2 linked regions of the Homo sapiens genome follow. The protein of the gene in region 1 interacts with the protein of each later gene in a pairwise test. Each region holds a gene or a part of one and is shown on either strand. Other genes may lie near its edges.

Region 1 (4,345 bases):
TACACACAATGTGAAATATCTCATATTATCATCAGGAATTAGAAGTGATGACCAATAACTAATTCCTCATAAATACTTCCTCCTGTCTTAGTGTAATATAAACATATTTCGAAGAACAAAGTTTACTAAGAAAAAAACAACATTATACGATTTTAAAATAATTAAACACAATAAAGTTTAACAACAAAGTATAAGTTGGAACATGGTCCTGTAGCCTACTTTTAAGATCTAAAAAAAGAAAAAGAGGTTAGAGTTCTCAATGCTTACATAGGATAAAGTACATTTCACTCCTGAAACTAACAGGTAAAGGCAACCCTCTCATTTCTTGAGAATGTCTTATCTTACAGTCACTATATTAATCCACAAATGGAATCACTATTTTCTTCTGAGGATAACACTTCCTGCCTCTTTTTGGCATAACAGTATACAATCATCATGAGTTATCTTTTCCCAAAACAGCTTCCCCTACTAAAAGATAGAAGTTCTATTGGGTATTTTTTTTTTTTTTTTGAGATGGAGTCTTGCTCTGTCACCCAGGCTAAAGTGCAGTGGTGTAATCTTGGCTCACCACCACCTCTGCCTCCAGGGTTCAAGCGATTCTCATGGCTCAGCCTCCCAAGTAGCTGGGATCATAGGCACGTGCCATCACGTCCTGCTAATTTTGTTTTTGTATTTTTAGTAGAGGTGGGTTTTCAACATGTTGGCCAGGCTGGTTTTGAACTCCTGACCTCAAGTGATCCGCCCACCTCGGCCTCCCGAAGTGTTGGGATTACAGGCATGAGCCACTGCGCCCAGCCCTACTGGGTAATTTCATCAGACAACTTTTATATTTTGGTTAAGCCCTTATTCCAGAGAATCCATTTCTTATATACCCAAGCCCAACATAATCATCTCCTTAATTTCCATCCCTAAATAAAACCCACCCACTTCATGCATCAATTTTTCTAAGTATATGACAACAATTTTTGAACACACTAGCCTTAGAGATGATTTTTATATTTCTTGGACATATCCTGAAATGACAAATTCTTGTAAGAGTCACTATTGATAGCCCTTTGGCTATCCTGATGCTTTTAGGAATCCTTGCCCCATCACAGAGATTCTTAAAGAGAACCATGTCAAAATTCCTTGCTCTTTGCTTTTTCCTTTGTTAGTTCAAAATCTTCTTATGAAGGGGTAAACAAAACAATTTATATCATTTGGTTATAATATTTAACTGTATTAAAAAATTGACTAGGAAATTGCTATAAAATTTTTCATCTGTACTTTAAAGCATGTAAAAGTTGAACCCAAACATCTACATGGTTATAAAATTTCACTGAATTCTTTCTTTTAATTACCTGGAACATTCTCCTATCTCTTAAAAATATAATGTTCTTGATTCTACAATTATTTTAAGACACCTTAAGAATAGAAAACTGGAGTAAAAAATATTTACTGGCATTAAACATAAATCTCTAAAACCTCAAAAATAAGACCTACTCATCTCTGAAATAAATAATTTCTATACATCTCTGAACCACGTGACAGACACATACTAGGTATTTTCATTCACCTTTATTTAATCTTTACAGCAACTCCACAAAATAATGATTCCTATCTGTACTTTACAAGAGGAAATGAAGCTTCAAAAAGGGCATTAACTTGCAGGAATGGGCAGTTTGTCAAAATGTATTGGATTCTGTATGTGACTGACAAGCAGAACCATAATTTTATATGCTTCTGACTGTACCATGATGTATCCCAAAAATGTGATACAGCTGTCTTAGATAACGTTGATTTTAATGATCTTTGAGAGGGTGAACACAGTTCCATTGCCAACAGGTCCCATCTCAAAAACACTTAAGTTTCTTGGTAAGAACAGTGAAAATTCACAAAAAGGAGGCTGTTAAAGGTATACACTAGAAGTCATTTTTCAAGGTAACTTTTGATCCCATATATCAGATGTTCTAAGACTGTTAGAACACCTCGTCCAAAGGAATCTGCGTATAATAAACAGGGTTGAGCAATATAATCAATCACATATTTAAGAAACTGAAAACAATTTTTTACATTAAATTGAGTACACATACACATATATATACTCAACAACCACTTCCAGAATACCCTAAGATATTTTTTTCTCCTTGGATTTTTTTTCTTTTGAGATAGTCTCGCTCTGTCGCCCAGGCTGCAGTGAAGTGGCACGATCTTGGCTCACTGTAACCTCTGCCTTCCAGGTTCAAGTGATTCTCCTGCCTCAGTCTTCCAAACCATGCTTGGCTAATTTTTTTTATTTTTATTTTTTTAGTAGAGATAGGGTTTCACCATGTTGGCCAGGTTGGTCTTGAACTCCTCACCTCAAGTGATCCACTCCCTTCAGCCTCCCAAAGTGTTGGGATTACAAGTGTGAGCCATTGTACCTGGCCTTTTTTTCTCTTTTGATAAATGTGTCCCTGAGAATTAGAAAAACAGCATATACTCAAAGTATAGAAAACAGGATACACTTCAAATACTCCTTTTTTGATAAACTCAAAAGCATTATTTTTCCTTAGTCATCTCTTCTCTGGAGGTGAGCTGCTGAGTCAATATGATTTTGTAAGATTAAAAATATATATATATACACACACAGAGAACAGAGTAGAAAAATAATTTTTCAAACCATCAACATTTTATTTAATAAAAGCAACTGAGACATTTTCTAAAGTATACGGTATATTTGATATAAAAATTCTTCAAAATATGTACTATAGAAATTCTTCAAAATATGTACTAAAAATACAAAGTTTGTGAATCTAAGGTACAGAAAACACTTTATACTTCAGTCACCCAAAACAACAGCTTGTGGTCTCCTCCAATTACACACAGAGGGAGAGTTCGATGCCAGGACAGTCCAGATCCAACGGCTACAGAACCCATGAGGATGGGCTATAAAATATGTGAAGAATTAAAGAAGCACAGTAAGTCCCCAAAATTAATAAATAAAAATGACTTTCAAAAATATGAAATGCATTGATGATTTATCTTTGTAGCATAAACAAAATTTAAAAATATGCTCCCTTACAGGTGAAATACACATTATTGATACGCAGCTGAAACATGGGATACAATCCATCTATGAATAACTGGTACAGTCCAGACTCCATTTTTGCAGTCTACACCAACCAAACAAGCAAAATTAATGTATTTAAATAAAGAAGAAAATATAAAAGCAACAGAATAAAAAGCTTCTTATATGAATACTGGCCAAAAAAACCTGTTGTCACTGGTAATGTAAACATCAAAAAAAAACCACACAAAAAACAAAAACAAATGAACCACCTTTTCTTGCAATTTAAGCAGATAACAAACGTAAATGTCTTCAGTCAACAAATTACAAATTTGGGGCTATGAGTGGAAAAGTCAAAAACACAAATTAAAAAAAAAAAAAGCACGTATGTTACAAAACATTTCCACATTACCTGAGGGTGTCCTAAATGATGAATTTGAAACTGGCTTGCCATTTTGCCAGGATAACCAGTGGTTGCAAACAGATTTTCACTAATTGTGGACCACCTAAGAAATAAGGAAGCGTAAAATTAAGTATCGTATCCTATGGATAATGACAAGCTTTTCTGAAGCGGGCTTTTTCTTTTTCTTTTTCTTTTTTTTTAAGAGACAGGGTCTTGCTCTGTCACCCAGGCTGGAGTGCAGAAGTGCTAACAAAACTCACTGTAGCCTCAAATTCCTGGGCTCAAGTGATCTTCCCACCTCAGCCTCCCTAGTAGCTGGGACTACAGGTGTGTACTACGATGCCCAGGTAAGTTTTAATTTTTTGTTTTTTGTAGGAATGGGGTCTTGCTATCTTGCCCAGGCAGGTCTCAAACTCCTGGCCTCAAGTGATCCTCCTGCCTTGGTCTCCTGAAGTGCTGGGATTATAGGTATGAGCCATAGCACCTAGACAGAAACAGGTTTCTTTTTGTATAAAACCAGTGATTTTAATAATCCTAAATTTGTTAATATGTCTTTACAATTAGACCGGGAATTCCAGGAAAATATTCCATAAATATTTTCTCATACTTTAAGTTTTATGAAGTGCTTATTTTGTGTCATTTCATTAAGTTCCAAAGTTACACAAGGTTGATACAATCCTTTTTTTCACAACCAAAGGGGTAATAGTGTGGTAGAAGAAACAAATAAGGCATCAAATATGACAGCCATTCTGCCCCTTTTCCATGCTAAGTGAAGCCTAACTTTGTTCAGGGCACAGTGTGTCCTACCCTAGGGGATGAGACATAATTAGTTTAAGGCAGTCATAGCAATCTCCCATAAAAGGAGAGGGTTCCTTCTTCTCCTCTTACTTTTTTTTTTTTGTTTAATTGTTCGG
Region 2 (4,482 bases), on another chromosome or scaffold:
CCTCCCAAAATGCTGGGATCATAGGCATGAGCTATTGTACCTGGCCCTGATACTGAAATCATTAAGAATTATGGTGAGAGTAGTGTGGGAGAGAGTGACAGTGGGCCAGGAGCTAAAATCAACTGCAGTGAGCATGGGTAGCAGGTGGTATCTGATTCCATGAGCTTCAGAGCTGAGTGATTCGGGTAGCAGAGGAGGAACAGTGGCCTAGAATGCCAGTGGGGAACAAGGACATCTGTATGTTTTCCTTGAGGCCCCACCCCAAAGGGCATGGTAGAGAAAACTCTGGGGTCACTGTCCTCACGGGAGATCCAGGATCCAACTTTAACCGTAAGGCAGGAAAGCGAAGGAATTATTCAGAGATGAGGTTGAGGATCCAGAAAATTGTGCTGATGCCGTGAGTTACCAGAAGCAAAGTAGCTCTGGGAAATCATCAGCGCTGAAAAGGTACTTACATCCTTGGGAGTAGATAAGATGTGCCTTGGGAGAAAGTGTACAGTGAGAGAAGATGGTCCAGGATCAAGGTTTGAGGAAATCTAGCATATAGGGGTCAGGTCAAGGAGAAGGGGAAGAAATGGACAGGAATGTGGGAGGAAAACTGGGAGAGGGTAGTATCATAGGATTCATGAGAAGAGACTGTTTAAAAAGGAAGGCAAGGTCACATATGTGGAATGCTGCTAAGAGATCAAGTAAGAGGGCCAGGCATGGTGGCTAACACCTGTAATCATGTGGAATGCTGCTAAGAGTCAAGTAAGAGGGCCAGGTGTGGTGGCTCACACCTGTAATCCCAGCACTTTGGGAGGCCGAGGCAGGTAGCACTTTGGGAGGCTTGAGGCCAGGAGTTCAAGATCAGCCTGGCCAACATGGTGAAACCCCGTCTCTACTAAAAAATACAAAAATTAGCCAGGTGTGGTGGTGCACACCTGTAGTCCCAGCTGCTGAGGAGGTTGAGGTGGGAGGATTGCCTGAGCCCAGGAGTTCGAGGCTGTAGTGAGCTATGATTGCACCACTGCACCCCAGCCTGACAGAGTGAGACCCTGTCTCAAAAAAAAAACAAACAAACAAACAAAAATTATCAGATGGTACATGCTCCTTAGAGCCCTCAATCTCTCGAACTAGAGCACGTTCCAGGATCACATGGCCTTCCTTGTAACACTGGCTGTCTTCGGTGGCAAACTCGTAGATCCATCCCAGTTTGCTGCTGCAGTTTTTCAGCTCACATGTTGGACCATGTGGTGGCCAGTGAGCATGACCCAATCTAGAGCTTCATTGTACTGCAGGTTCACTACCTTGTTAAAAAGAAATGCTCTGCCAGTGGCGCCTGTGAACCAAGTGGAGATGAATTCTGAGCGGTTGGTCAGGATTGTATCACAGTTTGCATAAGAAAATGGACAGGTACCACGAATATGATCAAGGAAAATTCTGCCCATTTTTATGGCTGAAGTTCTAAAAACCCTGTGCAGCAGTGAGATCTGTGGCTGCCAGTGGCTCCTTGCTCCTCAGCTGGGATTAATAAACAAGCTCCTTTTGGGGAGGGTGGGGGAAAAAAGAAAAAAATAAATAAACAAGCTCCTTTTGAGGAGTAATAATGAAAGTTAGAATAGCTTAGTATAGAAACTAACCCTGATATGTTCAATTTGCGAAGGTATTTTTATATTAAAATATTTATTTTTGTAATATTTTTGCACATACATGTAAGCGCATGTATAAAATTGCTATTCTGTGTGTGTGTGTGTATATGTGTGCGCATGCATGCTATTGCAGGTTAAGAAGTAATAGAAACAGGAAATAACCGCAATTATTAAGGTCAGTTTTGTTTGATGCTGTAGTATATATGGAGGCCACATTCCACTACAAGCAATGGCCGGGGTATGGTGTTAATTTTTATTATAGTAGAGTTAATTGCATAAAATATTGTCCTAAATAAATGGCCTATCAAGTTTGGAAATGTCTCTATGTAACAGAATCACAGTGAAATTTGGATTTTGTTATGCTGTTTTTTATAAATGTACATAATGTGATTTGGCATGCAAAAGTGGTCCAAATCTGTTTATCCAAAATTTTCAAATTTGGTGAGTTCACTTGGACACTGTTCTCATATATTTCAGTAGAACAGTCAGTGAGAAAAGCATAAACTTTTCAAACAAATGTCTCTTTTTCAACAGGAAGACCTCTGGAGATACATTGGAGCTGATGGAGGAGTCACTGGACATAAATCTGTTGAATAATGCCATTCGCCTAAAATTCCAAAATTGCAGTGTTTTACCTGGAGGGGTTTATGTCTCTGAGACTCAGAATCGTGTGATAATCTTGATGTTAACCAATCAAACAGTGCACAGGTTACTTTTACCACACCCCTCCCGGATGTATAGGAGTGTAAGTTGGCTAAGTGCAATATCTTTTATTTCCCAAATTACTCTGGGTGTCACAAATGTAGTGCTGGAGCGATGTCTTTTGGAATTGAAGGAAATTTGGATTCTCGTTATCCCTCACCAAGCATACTTTGATAGCTACCGCTTAAAATGATCAGGCATACATTTTAAGTTGAGAATTAGTTTTCATTAAGAAGAATAGCTTTCTTAAACTTGACAGTTTTTTACTTTAAAAACTTTTTTAGCAATAGAGAGGAACTGAGCAAAATTCTGGTTATTTTGATTTAATAGATTTTTCTTTTTAATTACTCAACAGGAGTTGGTAGTTGACAGTCAGATGCAGTCAATATTCACTGACATTGGAAAAGTTGATTTCACAGATCCTTGCAACTATCAGTTAATTCCAGCAGTACCTGGAATATCTCCTAATTCCACCGCCTCTACAGCCTGGCTCAGCAGTGATGGGGAGGCCCTGTTTGCCTTACCATGTGCTTCTGGGGGAATCTTTGTTCTTAAGCTACCTCCTTATGACATACCTGGTAAGAATGGGAACTGAGCATGGATTTAACTTTAAACAAGGAATGTTAACATTGAAACAGTTCAACCTCGTCATCCAATGCAGGGATTGCATCTCTACTGCCCCGGAACTGGTCATTCATTATTGCTTGCCTAATGAGTCCCTAATGCTTTACTTTTATACAGTGGATAAGGAACTATAAAGCATATTGGAGCACGGAAAAACAAATAGACAAGTATAAGACAGCCTATTCTAAATCTTGTAGTAGAGATGGGTTGCCTAATTGTCTGCCCTGAGATGGAGGCATTATAACATTATAATTAAATTAATTGAAACAAAGACATTAAATACCCTGCACCAAGTTGCCACTGTGTCTTGCCTGGATTATTGTATTAGCTTTCTATATATCTCCCCAGATCTGTCTTAACCCTCTTCAGACACTTCTCAGGTGGACTGATATATTTAAAACCCAAGGGCCAGGCGCTGTGGCTCACGTCTATAATCCCAGCACTGTGGGAGGCCAAGGCAGGTGGGTCACCTGAGGTTGGGAGTTGGAGATCAACCTGACCAACATGGAGAAACCCCGTCTCTACTAAAAATACAAAATTAGCTGGGCATGGTGGCCCATGCCTGTAATCCCAGCTACTCGGGAGGCTGAGGCAAGAGAATCGCTTGAACCCAAGAGGTGGAGGTTGCGATAAGCCAAGATCGTGCCATTGCACTCCAGCCTGGGCAACAAGAGCGAAACTCCATCTCAAAAAGAAAAACCCAAGTTGGGTCATGTCACTGCACTGTGTAAAGCCGTCCTTTATGTAGTGCAGTGACATGACACAACTTTTCTTTTATTCTTTTTTTTTTTTTGAGATGGGATTTCTCTCTGTCGCCCAGGCTGGAGTACAGTGGCATGATCTCAGCTCACTGCAATCTCCACCTCCTGGGTTCAAGCGATTCTCCTGCATCAGTCTCCTGAGCAGCTGGGATTACAGGCATTTGCCACCATACCCAGCTAATTTTTGTATTTTTAGTAGAGACAGGGTTTCACCATGTTAGCCAGGCTGGTCTCGAACTCCTGACCTTGTGATCTGCCCACCTCAGCCTCCCAAAGTGTTGGGATTACAGGCTTGAGCCACCGCACCTGGCCTTTCTTTCTTTCTTTTGAGACAGAGTCTCACTGTCACCCAGGCTGGAATGCAGTGGTGCCATCTTGGCTCACTGCAACCTCCGCCCCCCCCAGGTTCAAGTGATTCTCATGTCTCAGCCTCCCAAGTAGCTGGAATTACAGGTGTCCACCACCACACCTGGCTAATTTTTGAATTTTTAGTAGAGATGGGGTTTTGCCACATTGACTAGGCTGGTCTCGAACTCCTGACCTCAAGTGATCCGCCTGCCTCAGCTTCCCAAAGTGCTGGGATTACAGGTGTGAGCCACGGCACCTGGCCAACATGACCCAAGGTGGGATTCAAATATATCATGTTATGCTGAATAAACCCAGAGTCCTTACACTGGCCTAGAGTGACCCACTGCTGTCTCCAACTTCATCTGTTCACTCTTCCCCTCTTCACCAGCCACATGCCTTCTTGTAATTCCTTGAAT

What was found. Proteins that work in one complex are often made in the same cells at the same time.
Region 2: the proteins of NUP37 (region 1) and NUP160 interact in a two-hybrid assay, tested with the Homo sapiens proteins (one study listed by BioGRID).

The regions. Positions count from the first base shown.
Region 1 is NC_000012.12:102,071,561-102,075,905, forward strand, and holds the end of NUP37 (nucleoporin Nup37), read right to left. Parts: intron 3,535-4,345; coding exon 3,441-3,534; intron 2,908-3,440; coding exon 2,794-2,907; 3' UTR 1,543-2,793; downstream 1-1,542. UniProt on the Homo sapiens protein: Component of the Nup107-160 subcomplex of the nuclear pore complex (NPC). The Nup107-160 subcomplex is required for the assembly of a functional NPC.
Region 2 is NC_000011.10:47,838,272-47,842,753, reverse strand, and holds part of NUP160 (nuclear pore complex protein Nup160), read left to right. Parts: intron 1-1,066; exon of another isoform or gene 1,067-1,510; intron 1,511-2,165; coding exon 2,166-2,376; coding exon of another isoform or gene 2,377-2,526; exon of another isoform or gene 2,527-2,688; coding exon 2,689-2,911; exon of another isoform or gene 2,912-3,253; intron 3,254-4,482. UniProt on the Homo sapiens protein: Functions as a component of the nuclear pore complex (NPC). Involved in poly(A)+ RNA transport.